2 separate regions of the Homo sapiens genome follow, and region 2 is linked to region 1. The links come from fine-mapping of genetic effects on gene expression. A gene starts in region 1. The other region holds a variant in brackets. All regions are shown on one strand. Distances are between the middles of the regions.

Region 1 (2,903 bases):
TACCGTCCTCTTGGCGTCTGCCCTAGTGGGGACCCTTGATTTTAACTTGAAGTTCCTGGACTGGGTCTAACCTTAGCATGTGTGCCTGAGTGATGGACTTGGTATTTACACCAGCCACGCTGATAAGTGCACATGTGTTTTTAATGTTTTGGCTTTCCACACCACAAACACACAGATGTGCTGTCGCCCGGGCTAGGACTTGAGTAGGGTTTTTCTATTTAAATATATATTATATATTTAAAAAAGTGTCCTCCCAGAGCTAATACCGTTGCTAGCAGCTCTTCCTGCCGCCACACCGGGCAAAGTCCACCCACTGCCCCAGTGTTGAGGGCCACCATGGGCGGCCCCACCTGGAGAGGTGCTGCTCACAGCAAACAGCTCCAACTGCGCCTTCGCCTCGCCTTCCAGGGAGCCCAGCCAGGCCCACTGGGTATTTACAAGCAGACCTCCCTCGCTTCAGCCTTCCTGAACCCCTGTTAGTTGGGAAACCACCTGTCTGCACCGCAGCTAGAGAACCGAGGAGAGGAGCCGCTAGTCTAAAGGGCTGTTGGTTGAAATTAGGAAGCAGTGTAAAGAAAAAGAAAAAAAAAGTTTGGGAGGCCAAGGCAGGAGCATCACCTGAGGTCAGGAGTTCGAGACCAGCCTGGCTAACATGGTGAAACCCCGTCTCTACTAAAAATACAAAAAATTAGCGGGGGCATGGTGGCACGCGGCTGTAATCCCAGCTACTCGGGAGGCTGAGGCAGGAGAATCGCTTGAACCCGGGAGGCGGAGGTTGCAGTCAGCGGAGATAGCGCCATTGCACTCCAGCTTAGGCAACAAGAGCGAAACTGTCTCAAAAAAAAAAAGTCTTCATAATTTCATGGGTTTGCAAGTATGATCCAGGCTCCCCGCTTCTCTGCAAGCCAATGCGAGTTAATTACAGCGTCCGCCCTGGTCTCTCTCCACCCCACGCCGTGATCCATTCCCCTTCTTTTTCTCCCCTTGTCTCTTTCCTCCTCCCCCTTTTATTTATGTATTTTTGGTTTTGTTTTTTAAGGGGTGTTGAGCCGCGTCTGGTTCTAGTAAACCGAACCCGCTCGCGAGGGAGGCGATTGGCTCCCGCGCCGGTGACGGACGTGGTAACGAGTGCGGCTCGCCCCGCCGGGAGCTGATTGGCTGCGCGGGGCGGCTCCGAGGGCTCGGCCGTAGGAGCCCCGCGCACTCCAGCCCTGCAGCCTCCGGAGTCAGTGCCGCGCGCCCGCCGCCCCGCGCCTTCCTGCTCGCCGCACCTCCGGGAGCCGGGGCGCACCCAGCCCGCAGCGCCGCCTCCCCGCCCGCGCCGCCTCCGACCGCAGGCCGAGGGCCGCCACTGGCCGGGGGGACCGGGCAGCAGCTTGCGGCCGCGGAGCCGGGCAACGCTGGGGACTGCGCCTTTTGTCCCCGGAGGTCCCTGGAAGTTTGCGGCAGGACGCGCGCGGGGAGGCGGCGGAGGCAGCCCCGACGTCGCGGAGAACAGGGCGCAGAGCCGGCATGGGCATCGGGCGCAGCGAGGGGGGCCGCCGCGGGGCAGCCCTGGGCGTGCTGCTGGCGCTGGGCGCGGCGCTTCTGGCCGTGGGCTCGGCCAGCGAGTACGACTACGTGAGCTTCCAGTCGGACATCGGCCCGTACCAGAGCGGGCGCTTCTACACCAAGCCACCTCAGTGCGTGGACATCCCCGCGGACCTGCGGCTGTGCCACAACGTGGGCTACAAGAAGATGGTGCTGCCCAACCTGCTGGAGCACGAGACCATGGCGGAGGTGAAGCAGCAGGCCAGCAGCTGGGTGCCCCTGCTCAACAAGAACTGCCACGCCGGCACCCAGGTCTTCCTCTGCTCGCTCTTCGCGCCCGTCTGCCTGGACCGGCCCATCTACCCGTGTCGCTGGCTCTGCGAGGCCGTGCGCGACTCGTGCGAGCCGGTCATGCAGTTCTTCGGCTTCTACTGGCCCGAGATGCTTAAGTGTGACAAGTTCCCCGAGGGGGACGTCTGCATCGCCATGACGCCGCCCAATGCCACCGAAGCCTCCAAGCCCCAAGGTAAGGCTGCCTCCTCCCACGTGCGCGAGCCGCCCCCTCCATCCCCCGGCCGGAGCTGCAGGAGAACCCGCGCCACCCTACGCCCGCCCGCCGCTGGGTCCCGGTGCTGGGGACTGAGGGCCCGAGGTTGCTCGCATGCTGTGCACGTGATTCCTAAGCGCGTCTGGTCTGTCCCAGGTATCGCTCAGCGCCCCTCGCGACCCAGGTGCACGGCGGGGCTGGCCCGGGAGCGGCAGCTCTGCGCCTTGGCCTCGCAGGGACTCGCTGTGGTCCCCGGAGCCGCTCTTCCTGGGATCCAACTTCGCCTTTCCCATACCTGAAACAAAGCCTTGCGCTTTAAATAACAGGGGAGCTTCCCTCTCCTCTAGGAGGACTCCGAGTCCCTATCGAAGTTTTTAACCTCTGAGACGGGAGGAAAAAACAAAAACCCAAAGCGTAGAAAGTTCAGAAAGGCCGAGAGAATGCTTGGAGCAGCTTTTGTTTATTTTCATAGGTTCGACAAAGATTTAAAAAATAAAACCAAGCCCTTTCCTTCACTGGTCATTCAGTCAAGTAGCCTTGGGATTGCTGCAAAACTGGCTGAGAAAGTTTAGGAACCGTGGGGACTTCTGTTTCTCCACCCCTTCCAGGTACCAGCTCTGCCCTCGGAGGGCTGGGGGTGGAAAGTCTTTTCTCCCTCCCTCTAGCGTACCCCCTGCTTTTCTCATTTACACAAATCCTCAGCTCATTAGAAAGATAAAAATGTAATTAGCTCATTGTTCATCTCCTCCCGGGGAGAGCAGCTCTGCAAAATGCAGACTTTCCTAACAGCCTGAGGGACCGGCCCGAGGTTCCTCTCAAAACCCCC
Region 2 (2,903 bases), 160 kb before region 1:
TAGGGAGGACAAGAAATACCGTCCAAGCAGAACCAGGCTTGAACTAGGTATTATGGGAAGAAAAATCTATAAGTAGAGAAGCACAGGACTGCCCTGAGCTGCAGTGTGGAGGGGGGAACGTGGGCAGCATGGGCAGGGAGCCCCAAGGGGTCATCTGAGCAGAAGGGAGGGCTTGGGCAGGCAGCGTGTGGGAGTGGGGTCTGGAGAGACAGGGTGAGGCTGGGGGCAAAGTCCTCTGGCTATCCAGCTAACAACTTACATTTTACCGTAAAGGCAGGGGTGGATTCATGTTTCATGTTTTTTGAAGCTTATAAATAAAATTTAGGTTGGGGGTGCAATGAGCTATGATCACTCCACTGTACTATAGCCTGGGCCACAGAGTGAGACCCCCCTCTGAAAATAAAATAAAATAAAAAATAAAAATAAAAGAATTTGAGGGGAGGCGGTAGGCACTCTAAGAAAAAGAATGTGAAATTATGAAAACAAAGTTGCCAGGGCTCCCAGCATATGCAAATGATGGGCCATGAAGCTCAAGCTTCGTTAGCCTTGCATGTTCTTAAGCAGGGGGGATTCTCTGGGCTGCCATGTTGGAAAGAACTGTTTGGTTCCGGGATGAATGCAGATGTTTTGGAGTGTTCAGGGTGGTACCAGATGAGTTTGCAAGCTTAATGAGGACTATGTTGGTTTCCTTGGGCTGGTTTAACGATTACCACAAGCTGGGTGGCTTAAGACAATAGAAACGTCTTCCCTTCCAGTTTAGAAGTCTGAAATCGAGGTGTCAAAGATTTGGTTCCTCCTGGAGGATGTGAGGGAGAAACTGGGCTCTGCTTTTCTCCTGGGTTCTGGTGGTTGCAGGAGTCCATGGCATTCGTGGCTTAGAGACACATCACTCCAATTTTGGCTTCCATCTTCACATTGCCTTCTTCTCTGTGTTCTCTCCTCTTCCCATAAGGATACCAGTCATTAGATGTGGGGCTCACCTTAAACCCAGGATGATTTCTTCCTGATATCTTTAATTACATTGGCAATAATCCTATTCCCAAATAAGGTGATAGTAACAGGTACCAGCAGGTTAGGACTTAGACATACCTTTTTTGGAGACACTATTCAACCCCCTACAGGGTCTAAACAAAATATCGCACAGTGTGGCATTTATGTCTATACTGTGGACCTGCGATCTCTTGTTGCTGTGCCCTTATATCTAATTCGGATCTTGACTGTGAGACCTTGGAGGGGTCACTGACCTCCCTGCGCCTCAGTTTGTTCAATAAAAAAGAGGTGGTTCTTACATTTTGCTTTACATAAAAATTCGAAAATCTGGCCAGGTGCGGTGGCTCATGCCTGTAATCCCAGCACTTTGGGAGGCTGAGACGGGTGGGTCATTTGAGGTCAGGAATTTGAGACCAGCCTGGTCAACATGGTGAAACCCCGTTTCTACTAAAAATACAAAAATTAGCCAGGTGTGGTGGCAGGTGCCTGTAATCCCAGCTGCTTGGGAGGCTGAGGCAGGAGAATCACTTGAACCTGGGAGGCAGAGGTTGCAGTGAGCTGAGATTGCACCACTGCACTCCAGCCTGGGCAAGAAAGTGAGACCCTTTCTCAGAAAAAAAAAAAAAA[AT/T]TGAAATTCTTATTGTTCAGGCCATGCCTCATATCAGTTAAACCAGAATCTCTCAGGGGTGGGATTTAGGAATTAATAGTGTTTGAAAAACTATCCAGGTGATTCCAGCGCACACTGAGTTTGAGACTAGTGCTCAACTTTAAATGTACAGGTGGATCAGTGTGAAAATGCAGATTCCGATTTGGTCCGGGACGGGACCTGAGACTCTGCATTTCTAACCGTCTATCTCCGGGGTGATGCTGAGGCAGCTGGTCTGAGGCCCACACCAAGTCTTAGGGCCTGGATGACCTTGCACAGCCTCCTGAGCTCTTACATCATCCTATTCACTCTCCTGCAGTGGCCAGGCTGCAGGCTGTGATGGAGTGAGGTAGAAACAACATCTTAACAGGAAATGGCTTTTGCTGAGAGACAGTTCAGTTTGGAGGTGGTTTATATATTGGGAAAGTCCATATGCTGCACATAAATGGGATCTAATGAATCTAATGACATTATTTAGAAACAGTTTCACTAAATGAAAGGCAGCAGCCAGACCTGTGAGCTTTCTCCTGCACCCTGGAATGCTTCTGTTTAGTATAACAAGTGTTAATACGGCCTCCCAAGACCTCTGAAAAGGGACAGCGCCCTTTCAGCAAACCAAAACGCCAGGAAAACAGTGAGAAGGATGTAAACAGTGTTCAACTTCAGATTTTAATCTGTCAAGTGCTGGTACTAGAAAAACAAACCCCTCCTCAGCCTGGCCCTGAGGTCTGGGCTGTGTCAACTTTGTCACTGAGCATTTGCACTCCACACAGGGTGGGTGGGGCAGGAAGGAGAAGTGTGTACAAAGACCAAGGCTTTCTGTGCTGAGTCCACTTGACCACCCTGGGATGCGTACTTGCTCAGAGACTGGGCTTGGATGCTCAGTGGCGATTCTCACCTATAGCTGCCTGTTAGAATCATCTGGGGAGGTTCAGATGGTACCTGTGTCTAGGCTTTCACCAGATCAATTAAAAATAATTTTTCTTGGGGTGGGGCTTGGGCAAGGGTATGTTTTCAATTTCTTCAGGTAATTCCAGTGTATACCAAGGACACTTCGCAGGTTCTGTGGCTATCCAGCTTGTAGTAGACTGTATAATTTGTTCGGCACATGTTTACTATGAGTCCTTACTATGAAAGTGTCAATTTGGGCTGCTGTAACAAAATACTATAAACTGGTGACTTGTAAACAGAAAGTTATTTCTCACAGTTCTGGGGCTGGGAAGTCCCAGATCAAGCTGTTGGCAGATCAGTGTCTGGCAAGGGCTCT

Alleles and levels. Positions count from the first base shown, and alleles are read on the strand shown. Sizes are in standard deviations (SD) of each study's normalised expression.
For the expression in prefrontal cortex of the gene that starts at base 1,199 in region 1, T is the high allele of the variant in region 2 and AT is the other (small effect, 0.27 SD a copy in BrainSeq).

What was found. PIP is the estimated chance that this variant, and not a neighbour inherited with it, causes the effect. A credible set is the group of variants that fine-mapping cannot tell apart.
Region 2: its variant is the best candidate, but not a certain one, in a credible set for the expression of SFRP1 in prefrontal cortex (BrainSeq, PIP 0.75).

Annotation. Positions count from the first base shown.
Region 1 is chr8:41,307,769-41,310,671 of GRCh38, reverse strand. It overlaps SFRP1 (secreted frizzled related protein 1), which reads left to right and starts at 1,199. Exons shown (of 3, transcript NM_003012.5): 1 at 1,199-2,056. The coding sequence starts at 1,513. RefSeq lists enhancers at 1,479-2,249, 2,250-2,903.
Region 2 is chr8:41,466,186-41,469,088 of GRCh38, reverse strand. No RefSeq gene overlaps it. Among named protein-coding and RNA genes, the nearest start is that of GOLGA7, 23 kb to the left of the region's middle. The variant AT/T (reference allele first, on the strand shown) is at 1,618.